4 separate regions of the Homo sapiens genome follow, and regions 1, 2 and 4 are each linked to region 3. The links come from fine-mapping of genetic effects on gene expression. A gene starts in region 3. Each other region holds a variant in brackets. All regions are shown on one strand. Distances are from middle to middle.

Region 1 (8,139 bases), 770 kb before region 3:
GGAAGCCAGAGGCCAGGAGTGCTCCAGGTCTCATTCTTCTTCCCCTCTGCTGTTAAGTGGATGGGGTAGGTGGGAGTTGGGCTGCTGATCCCAATTTCCCCTCTCCCTCGAAAGCCTGGACTCACCCACTCTCTCCAAATTCAATTGTCCTTGATGAGATCCACTCTCCCACACTGAGCTTCCCTACCCCCTCCCAAAAGGGGCCAGGGAGACTAAAACAGGTTCTCTCTGTTTTGCTCTATTGTTTTTCTTCTTTTCCCCCACCATGTTCCAGGACCCAGGACATGCTCTGCCTTGCTCTAAATCCTAAACTGGACAAGCTTAGGGTAGGAAGAGTCAGCGGCGACTGTGGCTTCCTACCCATTTTCTTATTTGCGTGAGCCTGGCCTTTCAACCTGTTGTGAGGAGGTAGGATGTCAGGACAGTGGGGGTGGGAGACTGAGTATTTTGACCTTGCGAGGCCTGCCCCTGTCTTTACCCATTCCCCGCCAGCCCTCAGTGCCCTTTGAAGGTTTATAGTCATATAAATCGCAGAGTCCCATGCCAGGCTTGGAATTTGCAACTATAAATAGGCAGGAGGTAAACAAGGTGGCAGATGCAGGGGCTTGGGACAAGACGGAAAATCTGCCCCTCTTTGCCTGGGCAGGGGCCAAGGCACATCCGTGGAAAGGGATATCTTCCCTCCCTTCTCACCTCTCCTCCCCTGCCTGCTGCCTGCTGGCTGCCTGTGCTCTGGGCTTCTAGTCTTTTCCCTCTAGGCATTTATCCTCCAAGGCAGCTTTCTGCTCCAACTCTCCCTGGCCACCTGCCCTGTTTCATCTTGCCCTGAGTCAAAACAGGGCGGAGGGATTGCCTCCATTAGGCTCTGTGCCCCTCGGCCTCCCTCCAGCTGCTTCACACTTTATCCCGTGCTCCTCTAGTGAAGTCTTAAGGAGGTGCCGCTTCTGCCAACCACCAGCCTCCACCACTAGGGGCGCCCTGATCCCCTCTCCATCCAGCCAAGGTGATGCTAACATTTCTCAAGCAGGAAACCGTATTAGGAAACTCTGGGGAAACAAAGCAAAGACCCTCACCTCCCACTCATTCCCTTCTAAAGCACAGAACGTGAGAGTGCACAGATTTTATGTTGCTTAGGCTGATGGACACCTGCCTGGCCACTTGGAGTTTCTACCCATGATCTCTGGGCTGTATGAGCCAGATTCTGAGCAAAGAGTCTGAGTTTGAAACAATTTAGGTAGCATGCTTTCTAGATCCATCCCTGCCTTCTCTCTGCCCCAGGGTCGGGCTGATTTTATGCTCTGTTTTGTCCTGGCCCTGGCAGGTTCCCAGCCACCAACAGTCCTCTGATGAATGTCAGGCCCCGCTGGCCCTGCAATTACCTCTGTTCATCCCTCTTGTAAGAATCTGGATCTTCAGCCCTGAAATTCCTTCTTTCATCCTAAACCTGGGCTCTCCAATCACACTCACCCATCGGTTTAGAATCACAGAAACTAGAACGGAAAGAAATCTTATTTTTTCTCATTTTACAGATGAGGAACCTGAAGCCCAGAGTGGTGAAGTGACTTTCACCTCAGTTACACAGCTCAGATTGGCTTTGTTGCTAAAGTTGGAAACACTCCTCTGCCAAGCTTGGCTTCTCCACCTAGACCTTAACTTCCCAGCTCCTGCTGGCTTCCTTGGCCCCCCAGAAGCAGAGTAGCCACCTTTCAAAGGTTCATTCTCCTTTGCACCCTACATCTACCTGGCCTCTACATGGGGAGAGAGAAAGGACAGATTCCAAATCTCAAGAAATGGTTGAATTATATGTGGCTCCGTTTTCCAGTACCTTCAACCCCCCATTTCCCTGAGTCCTCTCTGATGGCTTATCGGGCAGATGTTCCTGGAGGAATGACTTCCCAGAAGCCCATCTTCATAAAGCCTTGAGGAGCATCCTTCCTGCTGTGGGAAGCCACTTCCCTGGCTGCTCCTTTATTTTTCTAACGAATGTCAATTTCCTAAATTGGATGGCAAGGTGAGACCGAGTGCGGTTCCTTGAATGGTGTCACTTATTCCCTGGGTTTGCAATGCTCAAGGGAGCACATGTGCATGCACACACATGTATATGCATGCACTCATGTTCTCATCGCCATCCTGTTCAAGGGGTCTGTCTTTTTTTTTTTTTTTTTTGAGTCAGAGTCTTGCTCTGTTGCCCAGGATGGAGTGCAGTGACACGATCTTGGCTTACTGCAAGCTCCGCCTCCCAGGTTCACGCCATTCTCCTGCCTCAGCCTCCTGAGTAGCTGGGACTACAGGCACCTGCCCGTTAAATTTTTATATTTTTAGTAGAGACGGGGTTTCACCGTGTTAGCCAGGATGGTCTTGATCTCCTGACCTCGTGATCTGCCCATCTCGGCCTCCCAAAGTGCTGGGATTACAGGTGTGAGCCACCGTGCCCAGCCAAGGGGTCTGTCTTAATCTATTTCTGCAGCCATAACAAAATACCTGACACTGGGTAATTTATAAATAATAGAAATTCAGGCCAGGCATGGTGACTCATGCTTGTAATCCCAGTACTTTGGGAGGCCAAGGTGGGAGGATTGCTTGAGCCCAGGAATTTGAGGCCAGTCTGAGCAACATGGTGAAGCCCCATCTCTACAAAAAATACAAAAAAATTAGCTGGGTGTAGTAGCAGGTGCCTGTAGTCCCAGCTGCTTGGGAGGCTGAGGTGGAAGTATCGATTGAGGCCAGGAGGTGGAGGGTGCAGTGAATTGAGACTACGCCGCCGCACTCCAGCCTGGGTTACAGAGTGAGACTCTATAATAATAATAATAATAATAGTAATAATAGGAATTTGTTCTTCACAGTTCTGGAGGTGGAAAGTCCAAGATCAAGGGGCCAGGAGATTTGGTGTCGGGTAAAGGATATCTCTCTGCTTCATACGTGGCACCTCTTGCTGCATTCTCACACGGCAGAAGGGGGAAAAGTGGCAAACAACTCCCTCAAGCCCTTTTATAAGGGCACTAATATTGTTTGTGAGGGCACGACCTAAGCATCTCCTAAAGGCCCCACCTCTTAATGCTATTGCGTTGGGGATTCAGTTTCAACATGAATTTTGGAGGGAAACAAACACCACAGCAGGGTCTTAAGCTAGGAGCAAGACCAGAATCTCTGCATCCATGTTTCAAATGAGTCACAAGGAAAGGAAGACAAATACAGGAGTTGATCTGGGAGACAGATAGGACATGAGTTCCTGTGGTTCACTGAGGGCAAAGGGAAGGAGGTGGCACAGGTAACTAAGGTAAGTGGGAGTGTTCTGGCTCCCTGATGGGTGGAAAGGGGCTCCCTTTCCACTGGGCTGTCAGGATGAATGAAATCTGTAGGTGAGAGGGAAGATGCTGATGGCAGTCAGACAGGGAGAGTTCTGAGAGGGAGTCCAGTTACCGCAGAATACTCCCATCCTACAGCTGGACTGGAGTTCCCAGTGTGCCATCTGGGAGTGCCTGGGATGTGTGTGGGGCAGCTGGAGGGATGGCCATCATCTATCCAGCACCTGTCCTGCCCCCAAAGCGGATGATGTAACAGTATAACAATGTGGCAGAGGACAAGGGGGGTTTTGTAATGTTTCTCTGGGGGAGGAACAGTCCAGCTTTCAGCGATATGGCTGGGATAAGGCAGCTGTTGTCTGTGCTGTGAGCTCAGAAGAAGCCCCTATCCCTTCAGTGAGCAGTCTGAGCCTGGGTCCGCTCATCTTCATTCCAGTCCTTTAATCATGGGATGGCTCATGACTCTCCTTCCAAGGAACAGAAATGATTTGCGCTGCACCTGTCAGCCACATAGACTCTAATCAGAGATCAAACAGGGCACAGAAAAGACCCTGCCCAGGAATGAAATGTAGACCTTCCTATGGGGTAGGGGACATTCAGGCCCTGGAAGAATCTTTTTTTTTTTTTTTTCCTTTTGAGATGGAGTTTCGCTCCGTCTTGTGCCCAAGCTGGACTGCAATGGCACGATCTCAGCTCACTGCAACCTCTGCCTCCCAGGTTCAAGCGATTCTCCTGCCTCAACCTCCTGAGTAGCTGGGATTACAGGTGTGCACCACCATGCCTGGCTAATTTGTTGTATTTTTAGTAGAAATGGGGTTTCACCATGTAAGCCAGGCTCGTCTCGAACCCCTGATGTCAGGTGATCCACTCTCCTCGGCCTCCCAAAGTGCTGGGATTACAGGCGTAAGCCACCATGCCCGGCCAAAAGAATCTTTATCCTAGGTCCCCAGGCATTGCCTCCTCCCGCTCCACACCCACATCCCATCTCCCTGGTCTTCTGATGCCCCTCATTTGCCCAAGTGCCTTCAATTTAGGCCTCCCGCAAAGGTCCTCTTCCCACCTTCTACCTGGTCTCTCTGGAGGGCCTCACCTTGGTCTTCAATGATCCTTCATCTTGGCCCTCCAGAGAATCTCACCAGGATTCCTTGCAAACACTTTGGATGTGATCTTGCCTATAGATTCATTGTCCACCATTGTCCAAGTTCCCTAGATGCTTTGCTAACCAGGCTCAGAGAGCAGACTGGAGAGTTAGGTCCTTTATCGCCCCAATCCGACCACTTTCCCTCCTGCCTCTTCATTCAAGCTCCCCAGCTGGTCATGCCCTAGAAAAGCAATCTCAGCATCTGCTTTCTCACTCTCCCTTTCCTTATCCATAACCAGAAACCCTAGATGGGAGGCTGAGACAAGAAGATCGCTTGGGACCAGGAGTTCAAGTCCAGCCTGGGCAACATAGTGAGACCCTCATCTCTGAAAAAAAAAAAAAAAAAAAAAAAAAA[G/AG]GAAACCCCCAGTGTCATTCTCCAAACTATTAGACTGTTCTTGAAGGCAGCAGCCATAACTTACTCACTCCTGTGCCTCAAACTCAATACTTCAAAAGTTAAAGGTTCAATAGATATTTATTGAAAGAATCAGTCCTCGGCCGGGCACTGTGACTCATACCTGTAATCCCAGCACTTTGGGAGGCTGAAGCGGGCGGATCACCTGAGGTTGGGCGTTCCAGACCAGCCTGATCAACATGGAGAAACCCCGTCTCTACTAAAAATACAAAATTAACCAAGTGTGGTGGCACATGCCTGTAATCCCAGCTACTCGGGAGGCTGAGGCAGGAGAATCACTTGAACCCGGGAGGCGGAGGTTGCAGTGAGCTGACACCATGCCATTGCACTCCAGCCTGAACAACAAGAGCGAAACTCTGTCTCAAAAAATAAAAAAGAAAAAAGAAAAGAAAAGAAAAAGAAAAAAAAGAAAGAAAAAGAATCAGTCCTCAAACTTCTCCAGTATATTTCCTTCTTTTCTCAGTATACTGTCCTGTCAAGTTCTCAACAACTACACTCTTTTATTCCCAAGGCAGCTTTTGAGGAGCTGTTCAGAAGCATTAACCTCTTTCAGTCCCAGATCATGAGGGGGAATGCGCTGATATCCAGGTCTGGGACCGGGAGCTGAGCACATGGCCCGCCTGCCTCGCCTGAGCCTGGAGGCCCCAGGCGGGATTGTCTGTCCTCACTCATCCTTGCCGCCAAGGCCTCCTCGCCTGTATTTATATACACTAAAGCCTCTGCTCGAATAAAACATCCATGTAAAATCCAATTTCCTCAGAATCTCTTTTGGAGCCTGGGCCTGAGATGGAGTAGGTAACCCCGGCGGTAACTGCCTGAACCACTCCTGCCGGCTGCAAAGGTGAGGCCCATTTTTCAATTATCTATCTGCTGTGACAGCAGCGGTCCAGCCACCGAGCCAAGGCAGGGGGAGGGGAGAGGCAGAGCTGGGGAGGAGGGACAAAGAGGGCAAGGGCACGGTGGGGGAGAGGGGGAGGGAGAAACCTAGGGAGAGGAGGCACAGGGAGAGACCCTTGCGCCTGGCACCCAGTAGGTGCTCAAGAATTATTTGGAAAATGAGTGATCAAAGAGTGTATAGGGAGGGTGGGGGTGAGATCTCCTCCTCGGAGAGGGGGAGAGCTGGAGAGACACAGGGTGGGTGGAGACAGAGAGAGGGCGGGAGAGGTAGGGGGAGGGGAGGCGAGCGTGGATGGAGCCAACAAGAGGCTCCTGTGTCAATCCGTGGAAACGGGAGGCAGAGTGATGCGGTCACAGCTCCTGCCATCAATATCCTCTAATATAAATGTCAGTGATGCTATTTTCCGCGCAGTCATTTCGCACACTGCTGATTACATTAACGTATAATGGAGGGGCGCCGGCTCCACTGCTTTCTCCCCTAACCCTCCCCCCGGTGATGTGTCAATAGCCGCCTCCATGAACAAGTCAATTTTCTGCAGGCTTGGCAGCGGAATAAATCTGCCCGGCTATGGGGAGAGCTGGAGATATTTATATACCCGGCGCCTGCCTTCCGTGTGCGCGCGTGCGTGTGCGCGGCGGGCGCGGGCGCGGCCGCGGGCCGGAGCGGGGGTAGGGGGTGGTTCTGGGGCGCGCCGCCGAGCTGAATGATTTCCAGCCCCTACTCAATAAGAGGAGAATTTAGAGCGGTCCCTGAGCTGGGCTCCCAGAAACAGCCTTACACGTTTATTTTCCTTAGCTGAACAGGAAAGAGGAGAATTATATGTGGATTTATAGGACAGGCGCAGCTCAACCCAAATGCTCCCGCTCCAGGGGGCGGGGACGAGGGGGAGGGAGGTGGCAGGCCGGGCGCCGGCCGCTGGGACCCTCGCTCGTGCCTGCGTTGGTGGGGGCACACCCCCCTCGCCGGTCGCTTTAATTACATTTGTTCTCGTCCTTCGTGAGGGCGAGACTTCGGCGCGGCCCGCGTGGGGGGCGGGAGGAGGCGCAGGCCAGGACTGCCTGGAGGGGGGCGCGGGGAATGGGAACGTGGGGAGCCCGGGAGGGGGTGCTGTCAGCTTTTGCTCAGAAGCGGATCAATAGTACGAGATCTAATGGGCTAACTGCCAAGCGGGTGCACCGAGGCGCTGCCCCGCGGGGGCGGGAGGCGGTGGGCGAAGGACGAGAGAAAGGAATGGGGGTGGGAGAGGGAGTGAGGACGGGGAGGGGGGAAGGGCAGGAAGAGTGGAAGAGGTGGGGGGAGGAGGAAGAGAGAAAATAAAGAAGGGGAGAGAAGGCGAGCGGGAGCGGGAGGGCAGGGACAGGACAGGACAGTCTTCGTAGGGGCGTTTCTTCACAAGGGGGATCCTTTCCTGGAGCTGCCAGACGCCGCAGTCGCCAGCCGCCGGGCCTCAACTCTGTCATTGAGCCGCCAGGGGGCGGCGCGACCCTGTGCTCTCCCCGCGGATCTCAGGGTCTCCTCGCTGGGGCGCGAGTGACCGGTCGCCGCCGATGATTGGTCCCTGCCCGGCGCCCTCTGCCCTCTCCCGGAGGCCTCCCGCGTGGCAGGGTGGGCGTACGGCGACTCCCCCCAACTCCTGCCCCAAAGGAAGGAACCTTCTGGCTTTCCTGGTGTTGGCCCTGGCGCCCTGGGACCCTAGAGCCCCGGGGAAGCGCCCAAAGGCTAGGTCACCGGCCCAGGGCTGGCCACTGTCCCCGGAAGACCCCCAAGGCCGCGGCCGACGCGGCATGGAGGCGCTGGGAGATCTGGGCCTTCGCAGCCCGGCTAGGGAGCGTGGACGAGTCTCCGGGACATCCTGCGCGAAGGGTCCTTCTGTGCGTGCTGCGCGGGCGCTAACGAGGCCAGCCAGAGTCACCAGGGATGAAGGCTATAGGGCCCGGTTTTAACTCATTCGGTTCCTGGCCATTGACTGTCCTTTTTTCAGTTCTGGGGCCTCATCCCTTCCCAAACTGAGAAAATAAAATACAGCCCAACACCCTCAATGGCAAGTTTAGCCACCCTGGAGAGGGGAGCCTGGTGGTGACGGCTCAGTGTTCTCGACCTGGCAGGATAGCAGAATTACTTGAGGGAGATTTTTAACATAAGCGTGTTTACCCGCACGCATGCATTGTAAGAAGCTTGTATGTAGAGGCAGGGCTTCCTGGAAGCATGCCCGGTGTCAGAGCTCCCCCAGATAACGCTGATACAGAGTCCCACATGAGCATTACCTGAAGAAACTGCCTGGAGGTGCGGCACTGGGAATGGGAACATGGGGAGACCAGGAGTGGGGCACTGTCAGCTTTGGCTCCAAGCAGATCAATAATAGTACAAGATATAATGGGCTACCTGC
Region 2 (8,000 bases), 48 kb after region 3:
GGTGAAGTCTGAATAAGCTTCATGGATATCGTACTAACGTTGTAAGATGTTCACACTGGGGGAGGTTGGGGCAAGTGTACATGGGACTTCCCTGTACGTTTCTTCCCTGTACATGTCTTGCAACTCCATAATTATCTAAAAATAAAAAGTTAAATATATATGTACATATACACATGATCTGCAGGGCTAAAGACTTGGAGAATGACTTCAGTATAGGCATTTGAAAATCAGAATCTATTATCTATTATCTTTGTTTTTCCATTATAATGTGAGAAAGTAATACGGGAATCATTATGTATTGTTCCATGCTGGTGTACCCCTGCAATTCTGAAGGCCAATAAGATGCTGAACATCACCAGAAAGGGGATTGGAAATGAAATAGACCAAGAAAGTTTCTTGTCAGGCCAAAAGAGCTTGGCTGACTTTCTTCATAAAAAACACATACAACACCAAAAATGTGAGTAGTTTTTGAAAACCAGTATTAACAAACTAAGAGGCTGCCATATGAGATGAAAAAGATTCTAAACGAGTTGTAATAGAATTTTAGAAAATCAAAAATACTATGAAGTCTATCAAAACTAAGGCCTATTTTTTTTTTTAGACGGAGTCTCACTCTGTCACCCAAGCTAGAGTGGTGCCATCTCGGCTTACTGCAACCTCTGCCTCCCAGGTTCACACCATTCTCCTGCCTCAGCCTCCCGAGTAGCTGGGACTACAGGCACCTGCCACCATGCCCAGCTAATTTTTTTTTGATTTTTTTTTTTTTGTATTTTTAGTAGAGATGGGGTTTCACTGTGTTTGCCAGGATGGTCTCGATCTCCTGACCTCGTGATCTGCCCTCCTCGGCCTCCCAAAGTGCTGGGATTACAGGCGTGAGCCACCGCGCCCAGCCACCAAGGCCTACTTTTTAAAGCTTGGTAGGCAACCTTAATTCAACTGAAAAGAAGCACTGCTTGATCAGGTGTAGTAGCACCAGCAAAACACAAAAATACAATTCAGAATGACTTAAATGAATTCACAATTTCCAAAGCCATTATAGGTTTGGACATGAATTTCTGATCCTTAAAGACATGTCAGAGGAGTCAGCCAGGCCCCTTTGCTTTGGGGAAAGGGGCCTGAGCTTGTTCCCACTCAGAAAGGCACTTTTTATGTTAGGAATAACATTCAAAGATTTTGGACATTACCAAGCCTGACAGAGCTAGTTCCCATTTTCCATAAGACAGAAATTATCAGGAAAGAAAACAAAACAACAAAGCAAATTGAGTGACAAAGAAAATGCTTTGCCATAGCTGGGGTGAAGAGTCTTCCTGTGAAAGGAGTCTAAGCCGGAACTACAGGGAGTAATAGACAGAGATTCTAGAGAATTCTTTCCTGGAAGATCCTACAATATGCAAAGATTTGTATGATATCCAGGTCAAGCCCAACTGATCAATGAATGAGACTTAATTGAGCACCTGTCATGGAACAACACTATAGGCCTTATTTGGACAACATTCCTATAAAGTGACTTGTGTTTTTGTTTTTTTTGTTGTTTGTTTTGTTTTGTTTTTGGAGACAGAGTCTCACTGTATCTTGCTCAGGCTTGAGTACAGTGGTGTGATGTCGGCTCACTGCAGACTCCACCTCCCGGGACTTGTGTTTTTCTGTTTGTTTGTTTTTTGAGACGGAGTCTTGCTCTGTCTTGCCCAGATTGGAGTGCAGTGGCATGATCTCGGCTCACTGCAGCCTCCGCCTCCCGAGTTCAAGCAATTCTCCTGTCTCAGCCTCCTGAGTAGCTGGGATTACAGGCGTGTGCCACCACACCCAGCTAATTTTGTAATTTTTGTAGAGATGGGGTTTCACCATGTTGGCCAGGCTGGTCTCGAACTCCCAATCTCAGGTGATCCGCCCACCTTGACATCCCAAAGTGCTGGGATTACAGGCGTGAGCCACCACGCCCAGCCAACTTGTGTTGTTAACCTCCGAGTTATTTGCAGACATATTTGAACCTTATGGCTAGCTTGTTCATATCCAAAATATCCTATATTAAGAAAAGACTCAGCTGGGTGCAGTGGCTCACGCCTGTAATCCCAGCACTTTGGGAGGCCAAGGCAGGCAGATCTTGAGGTCAGGAGTTTGAGACCAGCCTGACCAAAATGGTGAAACCCCGTCTCTACTAAAAATACAAAAATTAGCTGGGCGTGGTGATGCACCCCTGTAATCCCAGCTACTCAGGAGGCTGAGGCAGGAGAATCACTTGAACCCTGGAGGTGGAGTTTACAGTGAGCCAAGATCGTGCCACTGCACTCCAGCCTGGGCGACAGAGCGAGACTCTGTCTCAAAAAAAAAAGAAGACTGTCCTGTAGTGAGTACCAAAGGAGGAGGATCTTGTTCTTGGTCAATGAAACAATGACATGATTTCCTTTTGGGGGTAAAATATAGATTGCAGAAAACATAGTGAGTATTGTGAGAAGATGCAAAGAGAACCAAAAAGGAAGGAATTTAAGTGTTTGTATGGGTGCCACCTCTATGTGGCAGTTATGTGATTGAAGGAAAGATGCTAACAAACACTGAAGATGTAAATTTAAGATATAAATTTTGTTTAACAAATGGAGGCTGCTATATAGACAGAACATGGTAAAACAGTATACTCCCAGATGGAGGTACAAGCTTCCCATTTCCCATGAGGTTGTACAGTTGCTGACAATATTACCCAGATTCAGGACCATTCAAAGGGTTCATGACTTCCTGAACCCTCCCAGCTCTTCTCAGACATTTGCTTGAACTCTAGACTTGCATATCCAACTGTATTCTTGGCATCTCTCCTTCAGTGTTTAATACGCATCTCAAACTTAACGTGTCCAAAACTGAACTCCTGATCCTCGCTGCCATCACCCAAGCCTACCCCTTCTGTAGTCTTCTCCATCTAAGTAAAGGACTGTTCCTCCTAGTTGCTCAGACAAAAATCATGAAGAGTCACCTTTTTTTTTGTTTTTTAAGACAGAATCTTGCTCTGTTGCACAGGCTAGAGTGCAGTGGCGCCATCTTGGCTCATTACAACCTCCACCTCCTGGGTTCAAGCAATTCTTGTGCCTCAGCCTCCCAAGAAGCTGCGATTACAGGCATGCACTACCATGTCCAGCTAATGTTTGTATTTTTAGTAGAGATGGGGTTTGGCCACGTTGGCCAGGCTGGTCTCAAACTCCTGACCTCAAGCAATCCGCCTGCCTCAGCCTCCCAAAGTGCAAGATTACAGGCATGAGCCACCATGTCCAACCCATAATAGAATATTTTTTGACCATATAAAGGAATGAAGTACTGGATACAAGCTACAACATGGATGACCCTTGAAAATATCATCCTGAGTGAAAGAAGCCAGACACAAAAGGCCATAAATGATATGATTCTATCTATATCAAATGTCCAGCATAGGCAATCTCATGGAAACTGACTAGATTCACAGTTTCCAGGGACTGAGGGGAGGAGGAACGGGGAGTGAATGCTAATAAATAAAGGGTTTCTTTTTGAAGTGATTAAAATGTTCTAAAATGGATTGTGGTGAAGGTTGCACAAATCCATGAATTGGCTAAAAAAAATCATTGATTTGTTAAAGGGTGCCTTTTATAGTATGTAGATTATATTTCAATAAAGCTATTATTTAAAAATCTCACTTATTCTTGAATAAGTACCAGTGCAGAAGCCACAACCAGCACACCTTGAAGCCTCACAGCAACTTTTCTCTGTTTCATATGAAGGTTTCCCTTTCCTCTTTTATACTTAAGTATGGGCTGCCTTAATTA[T/C]CTCTGTATACCCTCCAGTTCCTAATCTAGTACTTTGAACATAGTAAGTGCCTATAAAAGTGAATTGAATACAAGGATTTTGAAATAAAAAAGATAGACCATCAGATGCAGCAGAAAATGTAAGGAGAAAAAGAACTGCAAAAAGATTTTGAGAAATATAGGAAGCCTGTGGCAAGCCAGTGCTCCCACTAATTTTTTAGTGTAGTGAGCAGATGACTGTGCCACATTAGGAGATGATCAACTACAAGAGTAACAGAGTGAACACTGAGCATATGTACACAGAGGTTAGTGCTATAATCAAACCTTTAGCAAAGTTAATCTGACACACTTAGTGCTGTGCATAATTGTTATTGTGCTTCATAGTAATTAGGCATAAGTGGTAAGCGATTTACATAAATAACTGTGGTTAGTTGTGCTTTTACACTGCCAAGTCAAAATTTTACAATTGTTTCTTCTTCTTGTGTTAGCTGTCCAGTATACGTGTGTGTGTGTATACACTGATATAAAGTTTAATCATATCATGTAATAATAACTAGCATTTATTCAAGTATGTGAGGAACTCTTCTAAGTGCTTTACCTGTATCATCTTTTTAAATTTCCGTAGCAACTCCATGGGGTGGGTACTATACTTTTCACTGAGTGTTTATTCTGTGCACACGAAGTACTTTTATTTATTTATTTAGAGAGAGGGACTTGCTCTGTTGTCCAGACTCAAGAAATCTTCCGGCCAGGTGTGGTGGCTCATGCCTGTAATCCCAGCACTTTGGGAGGCTGAGGCGGGCGGATCATGAGGTCAGGAGATCGAGACCACGGTGAAACCCCGTCGCTACTAAAAATACAAAAAATTAGCTGGGTGTGGTGGCGGGTGCCTGTAGTCCCAGCTACTTGGGAGGCTGAGGCAGGAGAATGGCGTGAACCCAGGAGGCGGAGCTTGCAGTGAGCCAAGATCGCGCCACTGCCCTCCAGCCTGGGCGACAGAGCAAGACTCCATCTCAAAAAAAAAAAAGAAAAAGAAATCTTCCCACCTCAGCCTCCCGAGTAGCTGGGACTACAGGCACATGCCACCATGCTGGCTAATTTTTGTATTTTTAGTAGAGATGGGGTTTCATAATGTTGGCCAGGCTGGTCTTGAACTCCTGACCTCAAGTGATCTGCCCATGTCAGCCTCCCAAAGTGCTGGGACGACAGGGATGAGCCACCGCGCCCGGCATATTTTTATTTTGTATTTTTTGTAGAGACAGGGTCTCGTTGTGTTGCCAGGACTGACCATGTACTTTGAAGTGTTTTACATATTTTAAGTTCATATAATGATCACAATTATATGAGGTAGAAACTATTATATCTTTCATTTTACAGAAACAGAGACTGAAACATAGAGTGGCCACCCAGCCTCACACAGCTAGGTAAGTGGTGAAGCCAGGGCTGGAGCCTAGGCAGTCCTACTCTAGAGCATGCACTCTACCTGCTGTGCTTTTCTGCAGCCCGTTTTTCCCTTGCTCTTATTCCCACTGGCTAATCCAGGACTCCTAATTCCTGAAAAATTCTTGGTAAATATTTCTGAGCGGCCTAAGCCATGTTTTGCACACACTCATGAATACACTCAGTTAATTATCACATTGTCTCTGCTACTTTTTTATCCTTTCATTACACCAGCCTACTGCTTCTATGTCCACAAAACAACCACATCTGCCAGGGCACAGGCCCTGCTTTATCTGGGTAGCACGACATCCCCTGGGCACATTTTCTAGGCACTGTTGCTGCTCACACTGGGTTCTATGTATAAAAGAGTAGGGAGAAACAAATGCTAAAGGACACTGTAGGCAGAGGTGGGGAGGGGATACAGTGTGTGGCTTCATGACAGGGATATGTTTTGAGAAATGTGTCGTTAGGTGATTTTGTCACTGTGCAAACATCATAGAATGTACTTATACAAACCTAGATGGATAGCCTCCTATACACCCATGCTATATGGTAGAGCCTATTGCTCCTAGGCTACCAGCCTATACAGCATGTTATTGTACTGACTACTGTGGGCAATTATAACATGATGGTAAGCATTTGTGTATCTAAACAAAACATAGGCCTGGCATGGTGGCTCACGCCTGTAATCCCAGCACTTTGGGAGGCTGAGGCAGGCAGATCACCTGAGGTTGGGAGTTTGAGACCATCCTGGCTAACACGGTGAAACCCCATCTCTACTAAAAATACAAAAATTAGCTGGGCGTGGTGGTGTGGACTTGTAGTCCCAGCTACTTGGGAGGCTGAGGCAGGAGAATCCGCTTGAACCTGGGAGGCGGAGGTTGCAGTCAGCCGAGATTGCGCCACTGCGCTCCAGCCTAGGCGACAGAGTGAGACTCTGTCTCAAAAAATAAAATAAAACAAAATAAAATAGAAAATAAGAAACATTCTGAATATGAATCTGCAGAATTTGATATTTTCCTCTTACCACCCAGGACTTTCATCTTAGTGCCCTGTGATTTTGTTTTGTTCTGCCTCTCATCACTTTCCCCACAAATCTTTACGTAGTATTTCTGGCTTCTCCCCAACCTTTAATCCCATCTCTTAATGTCCATAAAATGTCTCTGAGTCATCAGCTGGGCATGGTGGCTCATGCCTGTTATCTCAGCATTTTAGGAGGCCAAAGTGGGCCGATTGCTTGAGCCCAGGAGTTTGAAACCAGCCTGGGCAACAGAGTGAGACTCTGTCTCTACGAAAAATAAAAATAAAAATCATAATAAAGATGGATAAATGGGATGGAGCTCAGAAAAGAGGATATAATGATGATATTTTAAAAAGGCAATGAGACCCTGTCTCTACAAAAAATACAAAACTTAGCCAGGTATGGTGGCATACACTATAGTCCCAGCTACTCAGGAGGCTGAAGTGGGAAGATCATTTGAGCTAGGGAGGTCGAGGCTGCAGTGAGCCAAGATTGTACACTCCAGCCTGGCTGACAGAGTGAGATCCTGCCTTAAAAAAATTGTCTCTGAGTCATGAGGCTCAGTTTGGTCTACTTTAGGAGAGAGACATCTGATTACCGAAATTGGAGTGCTGGCCCAGGGGAAAGGAGAAGTGGTAGTGAATGAATGTGAACTATAGATCTCCATCTGAAGATTTAGCACAGAAGGCATATAGGACAAAGGGCTAAAGGCTAAGGGGAGGGTATGGAGTAGGGAAACTGCCAGGGGCTATAGCTGGAAGGTTCTCCAGTGATGCAGCTTTCTCATAGAATGAGTTCTGACAGCAGCTTTTCAGTCCATAGAACTCCCAAGATGCCTTGGGCTGGGGAGAGCCCAAAGATAGCTCTTCTGAGTGAGTTTCCTTGTGACTGTCTCTGTTCCACAGCATCCACACATCTGACCTGTAGAACACATGTGCACGAGCAGACACAAAGGTATGTTCACACGTGTGCCCACACACACAGTTACACAGAAAGTAGGTCTTACTAATAACTGTGAAATAATATCCCGTTGGTCCCCAAATTTTCTTCACTACCTTATCTGATAATACCTGAGGGGATTGAACTTGGAACTATTCACTGTACAATTTGAGAGAGTTAAGTTTAAAATGCAAATATTTTTCAAGGGTGAAAAGCATGACTAATTCTTACCTATTCCAAAGTATTGAAATCAGGCTTTCCTATTTAACTAGGGGAAGGGATTAGGAGGTAGAAGTTACAAGGTATCTGAAGTCTTAAAGGGAAGAGAAGTATTCAGACTTTCAAAATCAGATTTCCTCCTACTTAAAAATATGTCAAGAGGGAACAAAGCTGGTATCAGTGGAGGGATCTATTTAAGTATGGCAATAGAACACAAGCCAGATTGCAGAGAGTGAGGAGTTATGACATGAAAGTAGCTAGTGCTAACTGGTTGGGGGAGGATGGCATTGAAAGAAAAAAGAGAAAGGAGAAATGATTGCAGTAGAGATTGGGGCCAGAGGAAGGTATTTTTCAAGATGAGTATAGAAAGAAAAATTCAGGAATGTGTAGCTTTTGGTCATATTCCCATAACTATTTCACCAAATTAAAGTCCATTTCTTTCTTCAAAGGGAGTTCAGCCCTGTAAATCATTCTAAAAATGTTTTTTATAAATGTGAATTTTTTATATAATGATGCAGTGCCCTAAAATATGAAAAGAGAAAACAAGTCTTGTAAGCCAATTGACAAAAAAAATTTTTTAAAGTTAAACAGATGTGACAATCTTAGCAGTAGTCCTTATATTA
Region 3 (8,139 bases):
GCGGTTGGGGATACAGTGATGACTTGGTCTGCCTCTAGGTGGCAGGGAGCCATTTTGGGTTTTCGAACAGAAAAGTGACATAATGAATGCTGAGTTCTTAGGAAGATTAATCCAGGAGTAGTCTCCAGGATGTACTGGAAGGAGAGAAGCTGAAAGCAGGGAGGCTGCTGTGTTTGCAGTTGGCTGCCCAGTGCTACCTCTGCAGAGACAATCAATGTCCTGAAGGTAGCTGGTATGTCTGTGTGCACTGACACGAGCCTTCCTACCAAGCCCCAGGGGCTCCATGCTGGAGAATGCACGTAGGGCTAGGGTGAGCACTAACTTCACTTCAGGAGAGCAAGGAACAGTGTGGCTCTTCCATTTTTCAGTTCTGTAAGCACATCACCCTTTTCTCCTCCCCTTGAGCTGTGTTCTCTGACAGCTGTTTGTTGGTAAAGCCAGCAGCCCCTAAAGCACGTCCCAGCCTTGTCTCCTCTGTGCTTTCCCCCACCACTGCTGCTGCACGCCTCATTTGCTGGGCCACTTTAGTGGTGGAACCATTAGAGGCTGAGTGACTTAAAGGAGATTGAGTCTGTCTCGACCCCGAGAGAGAGTGGGATGGATGGATGCATCGTCTCATTTAGAAAGTGTTGCCTCTGACTCTAACACACTCTTCTCTCTTTCTTTACCTCCCTCCCTGTCTTCCTCCCTTCCCCTCCTTTCCCTAACCCCCTTCCCTCCCCCTTTCTCCTTCTCTCTCACAGTGTAGGCACCACTTCTCTTACAATTTAGGCTTTCTCTCTGCCTTGGGCTGAGTGAGGAAGAGGAGTGCTGTTCCTGCCTTCCTAGCCCAGCTGGGTCTGACCAGAGGCTACTGTGTACCCATTTACCATGCGTGATTGTTAACTCAGAGTGGGGTGTAGCCAGGTATTGACTGAATGTATGTTCTTGCTGACCTGTGTTTTTTTCTGTAGGGACCAAAGCAGTATCCTTACAATAATCTGTACCTGGAACGAGGCGGTGATCCCTCCAAAGAACCAGAGCGGGTGGTTCACTATGAGATCTGAGGAGGCTTCGTGGGCTTTTGGGTCCTCTAACTAGGACTCCCTCATTCCTAGAAATTTAACCTTAATGAAATCCCTAATAAAACTCAGTGCTGTGTTATTTGTGCCTCATTTCCCCAGGAATAGTCACTGCCTTGAGGAACCTCATCCTTTTCCCTTTTTTTCTGCTTGATGTCTGCTGTCTTCCCTGTTTTCTTTTTCTGAAATTTAAAGGATAAGAGGGTGGGGTGGATGGGGACTTAGGCACAAAATGTTAATTTGTTAATTTCACTTGGGTTGTAAAGGTACTTAAGGGTTTTAGCTGTGTGGAGGTGTTAAGGGTCCCTCCTTTTCCCATTTACAGGGTCAAGGAAGAAATGTTCCTAACTTTCCAAGTTGGAACAAGATTTATTTCACATAAAAAACCTTTCTAGTCTGGGTCTGGTAGCTCACGCCTATTATCCCAACACTTTGGGAGGCTGAGGTGGAAGGATTGCTTGAAGCTCAGGACTTTGAGACTAGCCTGGGCAACATGACGAGACCCCATCTCTGCAAAAAAAAATTTCAGAAAATTCACTGGGCACAGCAGTGCGCGCCTGTGGTCCCAGCTGTGCAGCAGGCTGAGCTGGGAGGATCATTTGAGCCCAGGAGCGTGCAGTGAGCCATGTTTGCAACACTGCTCCAGCCTGGGCAACACAGCAAGACCCTGTCTCGAAAAAAACCTTGGCATGGCGTGGTGGCTCAGCCTGTAACCCAGCACTTTGGGAGGCCGAGGCGGGTGAATCACTTGAGGCCAGGAGTTGAAGACTAGCCTGACTAACACAGCAAAACCCCGTCTCTATTAAGAATACAAAATATTAGCCAAGCTTGGTGGTGTATGCTTGTAATCCCAGCTACTCCAGAGGCTGAGGCAGGAGACTCCCTTGAACCCAGGAGGTCAAGGTTGCGGTGAGATGGTGGCACTGCACTCCAGCCTGGGCGACAGAGCCAGACCGTCTCAAAACAAAAAAAAACAAAAAAAACTCCTTAATAATAGTGGTTACTTGGAAAAAAATGTGCTCTAACGTGTTTCAAGTATATTACAGGACTGATAAGTGTTTTTGTCCTGTCTGCCTAAGGCTGCGACTGCCTCTGATCTTATTTCCGTTATAAGAATATTCCTTATTCCAAAGCAGCTTCTGAATCATAGCTTCTTAATAAGTTGACATTACCTGTATTTATGAATTGGAGGACAGTCAGTGAGTTACTACTGAACATGTTCATAGCTTTGATTACTTTTGATGACTCATCCACACTCCTATAACAGTCTTAGAGAAAAACTATGTTTTTGAGAGTCTATCATTCATCTGTTTTTTGTTTTATTTAGAGATAGGATCTTCCTCTGTTCCCCAGGTGGAAGTGCAGTAGCACAATCATAGCTCTCTGTAGCCTCAAACCCCTGGGCTCAAGGGATCCTCCTTACTCAACCTCCCTAGTAGCTAGGATTACTGGGATGTACGAACCTAAGTTTCTTATTTTTTGTTGAGGTGGGATCTTGCTATGTTGCCCAGGCTGGCTCAAACTCCTGGCCTCAAGCAATCCTGCCTCAGCTTCCTAAAGCACTGGGAATACAGGCAGGAGCCACTGTACCCAGCCCTCATGTCTATTTTTAAGTGAACCAACCCATATTCCTTTGGGGACATATTCTTAAGTTACAGTATATTGCCGGAAAACCTGTCCCATAGAAAAGCATACATTTTATGTGACCAAAAGAAGCAAGTTCATTCAAATTAGATGTGGAGTCTTAGTTGTGCAGGCAGTGAGAGACCTTTTGTGAGGTCAGGGAGTGGATACTTGTGGAATGCTATTCTTTGAAGGTCCCCACTGGCTTTTTATCTGTCTTCATTCTCTATAGCATTTGATAATCATTTCCTTAACAAACACCTGTGTGTCTAATATGTATCAAACACTGATAAGCCCTGGAGATATAAAACTGAGCAAGACAAAGTAATCACCTTCAAATATTACATAGGAGACCAGCAGTTATAATACAAAGTGAAAATAATTCTTTATCATTATTACTATTGAGACAGGGTCTCACGCTGTTGCCCAGGCTGCAGTGTAGTGGTGTGATCACAGCTCACTGCAGCCTCTACCTCCCAGGCCCAAGCGGTCCTCTCACTGTAGCCTCCCAAGCAGCTGGGACCACAGGGATGCACCAACACACCTGGCTAATTTTTGTATTTTTTGTAGAGACAGGGTTTCACCATGTTGCCCAGGCTGGTCTTAAACTTGTGGGCTCAAGCAATCCACCTGCCTTGGTCTCCCAAAGTGTTGGGATTATGGGTGTGGGCCACTATGCCAGGCCAAAAAGAATTTTTTTTTTTTTTTTTTGAGACATGGTCTCACTCTGTCACCCAGGCTGGAGTGCAGTGGCATGATCTCAGCTCACTGCAACCTCTGCCTCCCAGGTTCAAGTGATTCTCATGCCTCAGCCTCCCGAGTAGCTGGGATTACAGGCACATGCCACCACGCCCAGCCAATTTTTTCGGTATTTTTTGGTAGAGATGTAGTTTCACCATATTGGTCAGGCTGGTCTTGAACTCCTGACCTCGAGTGATCTGCCCGCCTCAGCCTCCCAAAGTGCTAGGATTACAGGCATGAGCCACTGCTCCCAGCAAGAATTCTTAAGAGGTGTGAGTTGAGAAAGTGCACTTTTAATTTGGCTTAATCATGTCCTACCCGAAACTGTGACTTAAGCTTCTGGTTCAAATTTCTTTAGGAGTATTCCATCAGTAACTCTTCTGCCTCCTTCTCTCAGGTTTAGTTTTTAACCCTGTTTACTTTTCCTCAGGCTTCATTCCCTGTTGTGCCAGCTAAGAAGTTCAGGAAATACTTGAGTACTTAGTAGGTAGGAAGCGTGGGCTAGGCACAGATAATGCACTGAATTACCTTCTGTCTAACTTCAAAATTGCCAGATCCACATGGAAGGGAACTGGAGTCGTGTCACAATGAGTTGGGCTCCATCATGATAACTGGCCCCCCATCTTTGGAGGTGTATCAGGCAGGAATACAGAGAATTCATGCGTTAAGCATAAGTTTCTAAGATTTAAAGCTGCCTACAGAATTTTTTTTTTTTTTTTGAGATGGAGTCTCTGTCACCCAGGCTGGAGTGCAGTGGCGTGATCTCAGCTCACTGCAACCTCCACCTCCCGGGTTCAAGCTATTCTCATGCCTCAGCCTCGTGAGTAGCTGGGACTACAGGCCTGCACCACCATGCCCGGCTAATTTTTATATTTTTGGTAGCGACGGAGTTTCACCATGTTGGCCAGGCTGGTCTCGAACTCCTGACCTTTGGTGATATGCCCACCTTGGCCTCCCAAAGTGCTGGGATTACAGGTGTGAGCCACTGCACCCGACCTGTCTACAGAACATTTTTATTTGGAAGTGGCACAATTTCTTCAACATAAAAAATACATTATCGGCTGGAATATCACCTGTGTTCTTGCAGCTCCAGAGGATAACACCCCTCCTATGTTCCTCAAATATTTCAGGAAGCCCCTGGCCCTGTAGTCTCACCCTCCATACACTTATAGCCCTTAATTCAACCAAGTTTTGGGCACCAGTTTCTGCTGGGCTGCAGTGCAACACTCACTGCCATTTACAGCCTCGATTGCTTTTTACGTTTTCAACTAAATGGATTCCACTGAGGGCTCCTGGGGCCAGGGCCGGGTCTTCTCCCGCTTCAATACATAGATAATGAGTTAGTATTTTCCCTTTTCAGAGACTGGCCCTAGAGCCTGGCTCAAACTGAATAGACCAGAACTTACTGGTCCAGATCTGACCCGCTGCGCAATCACAGGGTAGGTGAGGGAGGCCCGGTTAAAAGCTATAATCCTGTTTGGAAACGTTCTCCGTGGGTCTGTCAGTGTCTCGGGCTCGGCGCCCGCGGAGCGTGTTTCCGACGGTGCCCTGCCGGGGTCCGCGCCGCTTTGGTCCTCCGCAGCCGCCGTCCACAGCGCCCGGCTCCGCGCGAGAGCCCTGCCAGAGGAGCGGCTCCGGCCGCCGCGCCTGACCCTTGTCCGGGGTCTTCCGCACAGGTTGGTTCGCCCCGCCGGTCTGGGGTCCCTGGTAGCAGAGATTGCGCTGGGGACCCGGAGCACTGCTCCTTTCTCGGCAGAGCGCGGAGGGGAGCCCGCTTGCTGCGGAGCCCCCGGCCCGCGCCTGCCCTGCCCGCGGGTCCGGGCCTCGGGGGCCTCCACTACGTCTACCCTTGAATTGGATCCGGCTCTACTGTCCCTGCCGCACGGGAACCCCCAGCCGGATGAGGGTCTCCCTGTTCACTGCTGCCTTGCGCCTTCCCATCCGCCTTGGTCCTGACCTGGCCCAGCCGAGGCCGTCCGGTGTCGCTGCGTTTGGGCTGGGCGGGAAGGTCTGTCATTGCTGACCCTGGCGCGCCGCGCTTCGGCGACAGCGGGAAAGAGGCTGTGCTGACCGTCCTCCCTAGGGACTGGACTGCCAAGGGTAGCTGGTGCCCTCCTGCACGGCAGGTCTGTCGAGCATTTCATTGGTCATCTCCCCCTCACGCCCCCATGGCCAATCTGACCCCAGCGGGGGCCCTTTTTTTGTGAATAGATGCCTCTTAACAATGTGAATTAAGAGCCCATTTTCCCAGTTCCTAGACTGTCAGCGATTAAAACACTTTCTAGGGTTTACTTGCGACTAGTACAGTGGTTAGAAATACGGGCTCTTGATGCTGATGGGGGTTCACATCCCGGCCTAGCCAGTTGTCATCTCTAGAAAATGGGGATAATCATAGTACTTACCTGATAAGACCACTGAGAGAATTAACTGAGATATGCACATCAAATGCACAGCTGCTTATCGCAGCTCCTATTTTTGTTGTTAGGGAATCTTTTCCCAGAAACATTAAAATGGCTGTGACCAGCAGGTGGCACTGGTGACTGTATAGTAGAGTGTTGAGCTGGTCACAGAATACGTGATAGTAGCCACAAGTGTTTAAAGGTGCTTTGGAAATCTTGGCTTAATGGGCAGGCTTAAACTTTCTTCACGCTAGAAAGTACCTTAGAGATTAAGTAATACTATCTCCTGTTTTTGTAGGTGAGACTGATCTGACTATAGCTTACTCAAGCAGGTCACAGTAGGTCCCAAGCTTTCTCCTCAAGTTCAGTGTAATTTTTAAAAATCATTTCTACCTGTTTGCTAGCCTGTTGGGATGGGACCTTGAATATACATTGGAATTAGATCAGAAACCACAGAGTTAAAATGGATGTCCACATTCGAGCTTTTACCATATGCCAGACATTCGTTTGGAAACTAGTTACAACATGGTGAACAAAAGCCGACACAGTGTCAGCTCTCATGGAGCTTGCATATTAGTGGAAGAGACTGACAATGTCAATATAAATAAATATGTAATTATAAATTACTAGGAAGAAAAAAACTGAGGCTTTTTGTGATTGGGTAGTTCACTTATTTGGGGAAGTAAGCTGAGCCCAGAAAGATATAAGGAGCCAGTCATGTCGAAAGTGAAGGGAAGAGCATTCAAAGTATAGGGAACAGCATTTGTAAAGGCTCTAAGGAAGGAAAATGTCAGGAAATTAAAGGCTAGTGTGGCTGAAGCACAATGAATGAGAAAAGTATTAAAAGATGAAGTTGAAGTGGTAGGCTGGAGCCTTTGGGCAGGGCTCAAAGAAGTTTGAATTTTATTCTGTGTGTGATAGAAATCATTGAAAGATTTTAAGCATGGAATGCCAAAATCATTTTTTATTTTAGAAGTTCACTCCTGCTGCTGTGTAAAGAACGAATTGGGTAATGGCTTGAGTAGAAAGGGGATAGCTAGTTGGGAGGTTGTTGGAGTACTCCAGGTGAGAGATGATACAATCAAAAAGGCTGTTGGCAGCGAAAATAGAGAAAAGTAGACAGATTGAGATATATTTTGGAGGTTAAATCAAGGAGACTAAATGATGGATTAGAAGAGAATGAGGGAGAAGGAGGGATCAAGAGGGATTTTCAGGCTTCTGGGTTGAGCAATTGGGTGGATAGTGGAACCATTTACCAAGATGAAAAAAACTGGAGGAAGAACAGAAGAGATTGTGACTTTGCTCCTTTCTGAAAAAAACAAATAAAAAAAGACCATAAAAGATGGTAGAATAGAGAACTCCATTTTAGACAGACTAAAATGGGAGTTCCCTCCCCCATTAAGTATCTACTATATCCAAGTGAAATATTTGATTGGAAATTGCGTATAAGCAGCTGATCACTTGAGGTCAGGAGTTCGAGACCAGCCTGGCCAACACGGTAAAACTACGTCTCTACTAAAAATACAAAAATTAGCCAGGCATGGTGGCACATGCCTGTTATCCCAGCCACTCGGGAGGCTGAGGCAGGAGAATCACTTGAACCCAGGAGGCAGGGGTTGCAGTGAGCTGAGATCGTGTCACTGCACTCCAGCCTGGGTGACAGAGCAAGACTTGGTCTAAAAAACGAAAAGAAATTGCATATAAGAACTTGGAGCTTAGAGGAGAGATTTGTGATGGTGATATAAATTTGGGGATCATCAGCATATGGGTGCTATTTAAAGCCAAGGAAATGGACAAACATCACTGAGAGATTGTCTGGTTTGATGGTTATCACCACTGGACCTGTGGTAGCCATTGTGGTTGAGTATCATTTGAGGTTTAAAGCATTACATTTCAGTAATTGGGTGAATGAACTATCTTTAGATCTGCAGATGGTCATGTATTTGTCACTCTGTGTTGCCCTGAAATGCCCTATCTTGTGATGGAGAAAGACAAACAAGAACTCTTGTCCGCAGATGCTCCCTGGATCTGGCTGTTAAGTTTGCTGGTTTCTATTTTCAGTGGGCTGAGGGCCATGTCAGTTTTCTGCCACCTACAGGATAGACCATGAAGCTGAAGGAACTTGAGCGGCCAGCTGTCCAGGCATGGAGCCCAGCCAGCCAATACCCTTTGTATCTGGCCACAGGTATGGTGACACTGTGAATTAGGATCCACTGGGAGTACATAAGTTGAGGGGAAACTTAGTATCTAGAATTATTTATTGAACATCAGAGAAAGCTCTCAGATCATAGAAAGATAGGGTGGCTCACAGCATA
Region 4 (8,139 bases), 34 kb after region 3:
AAACTTTGCATTAATTCTTTGACTGGTGAAATTCTCCAGTGAAACCATCTAGGCCTGGAGATTTCTTTTTTGGGAGCTTTTAAATTACAAACTCAATTTCTTTAATGGTTATAGGACTATCCAGATCTTCTTTCATTGTGACTGAGTTTTGGTAGTTTATGGTTCTTGAGGAATGGGTCCATTTCTGATAAGTTGTCAGATTTATGAATGTAAAGTTTTCTGTAGTATTCGTTTATATTTTTAATGGCTTCAGGGTCTGTTGTAATAGTCCCTGTTTCATCTCTGATGATGATTTATATCTTCTTGCTTTTTATCTTTATCAGTTTTTAGATGTTTATCAATTTTATTGATTTTTTTCCTCAAAGAACTAGTTTTTGTTTCATTAATTTTCCCTATTATTTTTCTGTTTTCTATTATTTACCTTTCTCTTTCCTTTCCAAGAGCTGATGTTTTTTTCTCTTCATAGGTCCCAACTCCATCTCCAAGGCCAAGGGTTTTCACCCCTCAGTCATCACCAGCGATGCCCTTGGCACCTTCCCATCCTAGCCCTTATCAGGGTCCCAGGACACAGAATATAAGTGACTACAGGGCACCTGGGCCCCAGGCCATCCAGCCTTTGCCTTTGAGCCCTGGGGTAAGGCCTGGTGAGTGAGTCACTGAAGATCTATCTGGGCAGAGCACAGAGGTCTCAGGAAAGCAATTGGCATGGCCAGCATGGATTTGGGAAGCTGTATGTCTGTCTAGTGAGAGGAGCTTGGAAGTTGAAGTCTGAATTCCTAATGCTATCACTGGCTTCGTACCTTTGGCAATATACCAAAGTGTTGTGTTGCTTATTTCAATGCTATGGGATTGTTTTGAAGGTCAAATAAGGAATATAGTTAAAAGTATTTTGTAAATTATAGATTTCCATATACATGTATTAATCATTTATTATTTTTTTATTGCAATCCTGTTTCTCCCTGATATGCTCTGAGTTGCTCCTGAAATGAAGTTTAGTGACAAATGACCTATTTCTGTTCTGCTTCAGCTTCATCTCAGCCACAGCTATTAGGAGGGCAAAGGGTGCAAGTTCCTAACCCGGTGGGATTCCCTGGGACATGGCCTCTTCCTGGTTCCCCTCTACCCATGGCATGCCCAGGCATCATGCGACCTGGCTCTACCTCCCTGCCTGAGACTCCTAGACTGTTCCCTCTGCTTCCTCTGAGACCACTAGGTCCCGGCCGCATGGTCTCCCACACCCCAGCCCCTCCTGCAAGCTTCCCTGTGCCATACCTTCCAGGGGACCCAGGTGCCCCATGCTCTAGTGTCCTCCCAACCACTGGCATCTTGACTCCTCACCCAGGTCAGTCTTCCTTCCATGGATCCCTCTTCTGGGTTATTGCCTCCCCTGCTCCTCTCACTACTTTGGGAGTCTTTCCTCAAGTCAGAGGGCTAGGGCCCTGTTGGGTGGAGGGTGGCTGGGAGTGTAGATGGTCTGCAGAGGGAGGTATGGTGAACTCCAACTCAAAGAATGCTTCCAGCCTTCAGATAAAAAACTTCCAGTGTTTTTCACTATGCGCCGAAAAACCTCTATCTTTTTATTCTATAGGACCTCAAGATTCCTGGAAAGAAGCCCCAGCCCCCAGGGGAAACCTCCAGAGGAACAAGGTCAATGCATCTTTCCCTACCCACTCCCTCGCACATTCACCAATGACCACGTTCTAATTCCTTGGAGGATTCAGTCAGTCCTTCCCCTTCTCAGACTGTCCCCGCCCTCCTCCCACTTACTCTTCTTTCCTCAGAACCCTCTTCTTTCTCTTTCCCTCTTACACACATACACCAGTCTCCTCACTTCCCAGTTTCCCACACTCACTCTTCTGTCTCCTTGTTCACTGTCATTCCTGCCACTCCCCAAAACCAGAGCCATGGAGTCTCTCAGGTTAGACTCATGTCTTTCCTTCTGTCTCTTTAGCTGCCAGAGACATTTATGCCCCCAGCACCAATTACTGCTCCAGTTATGAGCCTCACCCCTGAGCTACAAGGGATTCTTCCCTCACAGCCCCCTGTCTCCAGTGTGAGTCATGCTCCCCCAGGAGTTCCAGGAGAACTCAGCCTGCAGGTGACAAGGACAATGTATTCCCCTCCCTTGGGAAACCTTCCAGCCCTCCTTGGGTGCAGGTCATGGTAGATGGGCCTCATTCCTCAAGGCATGTGCTGAGGGAGACTGGGGGCAGGTACCAGGTGTCCTTACTGCAGAGAAAGGGAGGCTGCTCATCTCCCCAACTCTGCTGTAATGGGAACAGTGTGACTGTGAGTCACTGGGGACTAGTCCTTAGGGAAGCCATGAGAAGGACAGCTTGCCCCTCTGGCCTTTCTCCCTGCTTCTTTATCAGCAGCTTCAGCACCTGCCACCTGAGAAGATGGAAAGGAAGGAGCTGCCCCCAGAGCATCAGTCCTTGAAGAGCAGCTTTGAGGCGCTTCTCCAACGCTGCTCCCTGTCTGCAACTGACTTAGTAAGTCTGAACCTTCTTCACAGTGCCCTCCTCGCACCCCTCGCTGGCTCCAGGACCCCTCAGCTGTGGACCAGTTCCTTGTGTGACTCTCTTCTCACTGCCCCTGGACATGCTGTCTCTATCTTGTACTTAATTGACGTCCATGTGGAGCTGGGGAGAGACTTTTGAGTCTGGTCTGAAGTCCAGCTCCTTGGTGGTAGGACCCAGCAGCATTGAGACCTAAAGGCAGCAGGGGTACTGGAAGGAGGGTGGAGCCAGGAGTGAGGAAGTCTGCCATTCCCCTGCTGGCTGTGTCGGCTTGAGCAAGTCACTTACCCTTCTTGGGCCTTCATTCCCTCCTCTGTGAAATGAAGCCATTCTAGCTCTAATATGCTGTGATTTTTTTTTTTTTTTTTTTTTGAGATGGAGTCTCGCTTTGTCGCCCAGGCTGGAGTGCAGTGGCGCGATCTCGGCTCACTGCAAGCTCTGCCTCCCGGGTTCAAGCCATTCTCCCGCCTCAGCCTCCCGAGTAGCTGGGACTACAGGTGCCCACCTCCATACCCGGCTAATTTTTTGTATTTTTAATGGAGACGGGGTTTCACCGTGTCAGCCAGGATGGTCTCCATCTCCTGACCTCATGATCCACCCGCCTTGGCCTCCCAAGGTGCTGGGATTACAGGCGTGAGCCACCATGCCCGGCCTAATATGCTGTGATTCTTTATGGCCCTGTGTGGTGTTAGACTTAGGGGCTGGGGTTGGAATCCATTTCTTTCCCTGCAGAAGACAAAAAGGAAGCTGGAAGAGGCAGCCCAGCGTCTGGAGTATCTATATGAGAAGCTCTGTGAGGGGACAGTAAGTACAGCTAGCTGTGCTCCCACTGCCTCCTACACTTCCACCATCACCATGGCCAAAGGAAGCCCAGTGTCTTTTCTTCCCATAGGTGTCACTGACCTGGGTTCCCCACAAAATACGTGCATCTTGCCTGGACTGGGCCCCAGAACTTAAGTCTTCCCTTATCCCTTCCATGCTGCCAGGGTAGGAGCTGGGTTGGGCTCACTAACCTAAGGGTCATTCCCTCCACAGCTCTCACCTCATGTCGTGGCTGGGCTCCATGAGGTTGCCCGATGTGTGGATGCAGGAAGCTTTGAGCAGGGCCTTGCAGTGCATGCCCAGGTGGCGGGCTGTAGCAGCTTCAGCGAGGTGTCCAGCTTCATGCCTATCCTGAAG[G/T]CTGTCCTCATCATCGCTCATAAGCTGCTGGTCTAAACCAGGCAGCCTCTCTTGCTAGGAGGCCACTTCTGCTGTTACATAACTCCTCCCTGCAGAAGAGGGGACTTCTGCAACAGATTCTGTTTCTTTTTCCCGACTCTTTTCCTTGCTGCCAGGTATGTGATGCTGTAGGCTTGGCTCCAAACCAGCTGAGTGCCTGCTTTTTACTCCTTTATGTCTGGCCTTCTAGGATCTGTCCAAGACACTCTCAGGCCTGGAGGCAGGGCATAGAATCAGTTCTTCACTCTCCCTAATACTACACTCTGTAAGGACCTGGGGCAGGATATCTTCTCCCCCAGGGATCTTCTATTTAAGTGGCTTCTGAGAGGGTGAACAGGATTGTTACTTTTAAGCCTACCTCTGCTGTGACCCATCATGTGGGTCTTTTGTTTCTCCCTTCTGTGGTTTATGAGCCTGCCCTTACCTTTTCCCTGCCTCTGACTTGGTATTTCCAGGTCCGTATTTCTCTGTAGCCCAGGGTCTGGGGTAGAGCTGACTGCTGTTCACCCTTTGAACAACTCATGGACGTGAGGGATGGGTGCTGAGCAGAACCAAGAGAGGAAACTTTGGCGCTGTTAAAATGGAATTTCTCATCTGCCGGCATTATTAAGGGTGGGCTAGGTTGGATGGAAGGTGAAAGGGATGAACTGCCTTTTGCTGGAAGCTGTCTTAGGCTGTGAGACAGGAGCAGGGGAACCACAGCCTATGGGGAACTGCCCTTGACTCCACCTATGTTGGAGCCTTAGCCCAAGGCCATTCCTTCTGTGATGATAAAGCCCAGTTCTGGAATTGGAGCCATATTAAGGAATGATTCTCTTCCAGCGCTGCTCCTCAAGGGTTGGGGGTCCTTCTCCCTCGCAGCCACCACATGTCTCAGGGCTACCTTCTCCGATTGGATTTGCATTTGTGGCACTGTCTTTGATGCAGTGATGTACTTAATGGTGCAATAAAGCTGCTTCGATTTGGTTTCCTCTGTCATCTCCCAGTCATTGCCTCCTCTGGGTTCTATTTTGCCATTACCTTTCTAGTCCTCTTTATTCTTGCTTCCTGCACCCTAGTAAGGCAGGGGAGAGGCTTAGGGAGAGATAAATCAAGAAAGTTAAAGGAAGGTGTCCATTCCCACTGAATTAGGTTCTCTCCTTGCAGCATTTGTGGTCACTCTGCTGGGTGTGTTGAGGGTGGGGGGATTGTCTCCCTTCATCCGTGCCTGGTGTTCAGTTCCAGGGTTTTCCCTACCCCACTTCAGGGCTGAGCTCAGCTATACAAAGGGACTGGGTGTGAAGCCAGGGGATGCTAGCCCTAATCCTGTTGTAGATCCCATCATGTCTGCGGGCTAGATGTGTGTGTGTTTGGGAGGGAGGGATTGTTAGGCAGTATTTGTTTGTAAAGCCACTTGCTCTTCAGATAATACTTGCACTAACTTCTATTGATGAAGCAGTGTGAGCCCTAGCAAAGTCCTTTCCCAAAGTGTCTTTGAAGCCAAGAGCCCATTGAAGGGAAGAAAGGCCGGGAGAGGGGATTAGTTTGTTCAGCAGCTGTGAATTTCAGTGGGAGGTTGATGAACTCCGAAGTCTTTGTTTAAATTAAAGTGGGGGAGAAAAAAGCCGCTGCTGGAGCGAGAGCCCCACTTGGGGCCCTGAACTAACACAAGGAGAAGTCTGAGCTGCAGGGAGCTGTGTACTGACTGCGAAGACTTTTCCCAAACACTTTCGGAAAAGGTGTTGTGAGAAGACAAGGGGGCGGAGTGGCGGATTAGCATGTGAAATGAAGTTTTCATTGACTCCAGTGGGGGTAGAAGGCTATTTTAATGGCATTTTGTTCTCCTATTTTCTCTTCTTGAGCTCTTTAGAGATATTGTTTTGCTAAGACAGGCTTTCTTCCCCCTTCTTTCCAGTCTGAGGATTGCCTCTATGGGAGCCAACATAAATATTTCTCCTCCAGGAATGCGGGTTAATTAAAAGGAAATGAATGAGTGGAAGCATCCAATCCAGACCTACAATAGGCGAGTGCCCTGGCCTGCCCTCCCCTCCCACCACCGCCAGCACCACCAGCGCCGAAGACGACCCCGTCTCTGTCTTTGCCCTAACCTGCTGCTAAGGCCAGTTGAGGCTGCGATTCTTTTCAAAAAGAAAAAGCTCTGCCTGTGTTTAGGCTCACAGGCCAGGGACAGGAAGGAGACAGTGTTTTGCCCACCCCAACCAATGTCCTTGTCACTTCTCAGGGCCTCCCTCTGTTTCTGTCTTCTGGCTGAGACAGATGGGCTCCTGAAGAGCACACAAGAGGTGGAAGGGGCCTGTGCTCTGCACTCTCCCCACAGTAACTTACTAGTTGGGGGAAGAAGCCAGTCATCTTTCTCAGCATCAGTTTAAATCTGTAACACAAAAGGTTTGACTGGCTGACCTCAAAGATGTCTTCCCAAGCACCAGTTCTGGAGTTGTCTACTTTGTAAAGGGACCACGGCCCTGGCAATTGAGTGTAAGATGAGAACTTAAACTCCGTGATGCAGCAATGGTGGTTGTTCACCACTATCTCTACTCTGGTGTTTGTTGAATGAACAAATGAACAAGTGGATATTGCAAAAGGAAGGGAAAAGCAATACAGATCCAAGGCATCTCAGTCATGTTTTCTTGGTAGAACTGGAATGAATCTGGTATCCATTTGGGGGTATAAAACAATAACCTATGAAATAATGTTCTGGCGGCATGACGTATTTAGAGTGCTGACCTGGAGTTACCAAATATGAAGCACAATAGTTCTGCTTTTATGCTAAGAGACCTGGAGAATGTAGCTTTACTTTACAACATTGTGCTTTTAAATTTTCTAGCTGCCTTGCCAAACTTTCTTCGTGTACATTATAAAGTAATTCTGCAAAGTGGGACAGGTAGGTTAGTATATGCTGCTTCTTGATTAAGGAGAAAAGGTGAGTTGGGAGATTCAGGAGGTTCAGATAAAAGCAGAGGGAAGGCGTGAAGGGCCTTTTGCTGAGAAAGCTGGAAATGAAGCACTAAGAACACCTGAAAGGAAGTGTATCCCCGGTCAGGAAGGGGAAACTCTCTCCTCAGTAAGTGTTGGTAAGACCAGAAGGTGTGTGGGTGAGGCCAAGGGTTTGGGATCTGACCTGGCCATTGCCTTAGTTTGGAATACGGGAACCCTTGACTCTTACAGGTGAACCCCTAGAGTCTTGGCTTTTGTTGCCTGGAGCCAGCCACACTGCTTTTCCTACTCTGGGAGAGGAAGGTTGAGGTCGTCTAGCATCTGACCAGTTCTGCTCTAGAAGAGCTGCCCAGCCCCAGACCTGGGACTGTCCTAGGGCAAGGAAGCTGGCTGGGAAGCCCCTTGGGCTACAGAGGGTCTGTCAGGGATTGGTTCTTCCCTCCCCAAGGTCTTGCTCTGTTTCATAAACAAGTCCCTGCTGTACTCTCTGAGAATAAAACCAGAAGACTCAAGTACCACAAGCAGCAAGCTCATGGCTCTTGAGTGAATGTATTAGAAGATTTAAATAGATGATTTACTAATCCTTGGCAGCTTAGCCTCAATCCAGATAACTGCTTGGGCCACCAGGGAAGTGAGGCTTTAGGGAGGATGGTATCCTGCCAAGATGGGAGGGAGGAGAGAGCCTACAGGTTGTATCTGTTACCACAGCCCACCCGAATATCCTCAAGAATAAGTGCAGTACCTAGAAAAAGAGCACATATCACAATGACTGCAATAAATTAAGGTTCAAGGTGCTGAACTTCCTACTAAGCAACAGTTTCATTGCAGGAAGTTTACTCATTGAAGGAAGATATCCAGTGCTCTGAATCCTGCCTGTTTGAGAACCAGGTTAGTGAGAAGGAAGGGTCTCAGTTTCTCCTTCTTAGGACCTGCCTCTAGAGGTGCAGACCAGGATCTGAAGAGGAAAGTGGCTTTATTTACCTCAGTCTTGGCTCAGAGGAACAAAGATCCTTTGGAGAAGAAGAGGTAAAGTTGGTTGCTAGGAGGAAGTAGGTCAGGAGAAGGGAGAAGTTACCTTTAAAGGGTAGGAAATGACTGTAATCTGCCCTTAACGTATTTCCTAGACCTTCGGGGTATGTATCTGGAGTCCCTCGGGTTATTGTCTAGGAAAGTCATTGCCCCACTAGTAAAGTCCATTCATGATATGATACCATAGGGATGAGTAGCACCCTTGGTGTTCAAGTTAGCACTCCAGAGCTCCCTCTTCCATCTTCAACCTCTGCCTCTAGGAACCAACCCCAAAGACATGCTTTTCCGGGGCCAGTTTCCTCAGTTTTTCTGGGAAAGGAAAGGGAGAAGAGGAGAGAAAGCATTCAAGATTCCTGGGGAATCTGGCTCAGCAGGTAGCAGGGGAGGAGCTGTGCAGAAGAGAGGTGCAGCAGTGGGTGAGCCCTGGTAGCAGACAGTG

Evidence for each region. PIP is the estimated chance that this variant, and not a neighbour inherited with it, causes the effect.
Region 1: its variant is fine-mapped to the expression of SEC31B in Th17 cells (Schmiedel 2018, PIP 0.95).
Region 2: its variant is fine-mapped to the expression of SEC31B in whole blood (INTERVAL, PIP above 0.99).
Region 4: its variant is fine-mapped to the expression of SEC31B in whole blood (TOPMed, PIP above 0.99).

The regions. Positions count from the first base shown.
Region 1 is chr10:101,290,881-101,299,019 of GRCh38, reverse strand. No RefSeq gene overlaps it. Among named protein-coding and RNA genes, the nearest start is that of LINC02681, 31 kb to the right of the region's middle. RefSeq lists enhancers at 673-742, 783-852, 7,021-7,560, 7,561-8,100. The variant G/AG (reference allele first, on the strand shown) is at 4,799.
Region 2 is chr10:100,468,902-100,476,901 of GRCh38, reverse strand. All of the region lies in intron 1 of WNT8B (Wnt family member 8B), which reads right to left. Among named protein-coding and RNA genes, the nearest start is that of WNT8B, 9.9 kb to the right of the region's middle. The variant T/C (reference allele first, on the strand shown) is at 3,780.
Region 3 is chr10:100,516,744-100,524,882 of GRCh38, reverse strand. SEC31B (SEC31 homolog B, COPII component) reads left to right here and starts at 5,022. Exons shown (of 26, transcript NM_015490.4): 1 at 5,022-5,101; 2 at 7,886-8,009. The coding sequence starts at 7,931. It overlaps NDUFB8 (NADH:ubiquinone oxidoreductase subunit B8), which reads left to right. Exons shown (of 5, transcript NM_005004.4): 5 at 954-1,143. The coding sequence ends at 1,046.
Region 4 is chr10:100,483,211-100,491,349 of GRCh38, reverse strand. It overlaps WNT8B (Wnt family member 8B), which reads right to left. Exons shown (of 6, transcript NM_003393.4): 6 at 7,606-8,139. It overlaps SEC31B (SEC31 homolog B, COPII component), which reads left to right. Exons shown (of 26, transcript NM_015490.4): 20 at 467-644; 21 at 1,028-1,342; 22 at 1,589-1,647; 23 at 1,952-2,098; 24 at 2,376-2,492; 25 at 3,252-3,323; 26 at 3,555-4,703. The coding sequence ends at 3,734. Among named protein-coding and RNA genes, the nearest start is that of WNT8B, 24 kb to the right of the region's middle. RefSeq lists enhancers at 4,838-5,613, 4,773-6,265, 5,614-6,390. The variant G/T (reference allele first, on the strand shown) is at 3,699.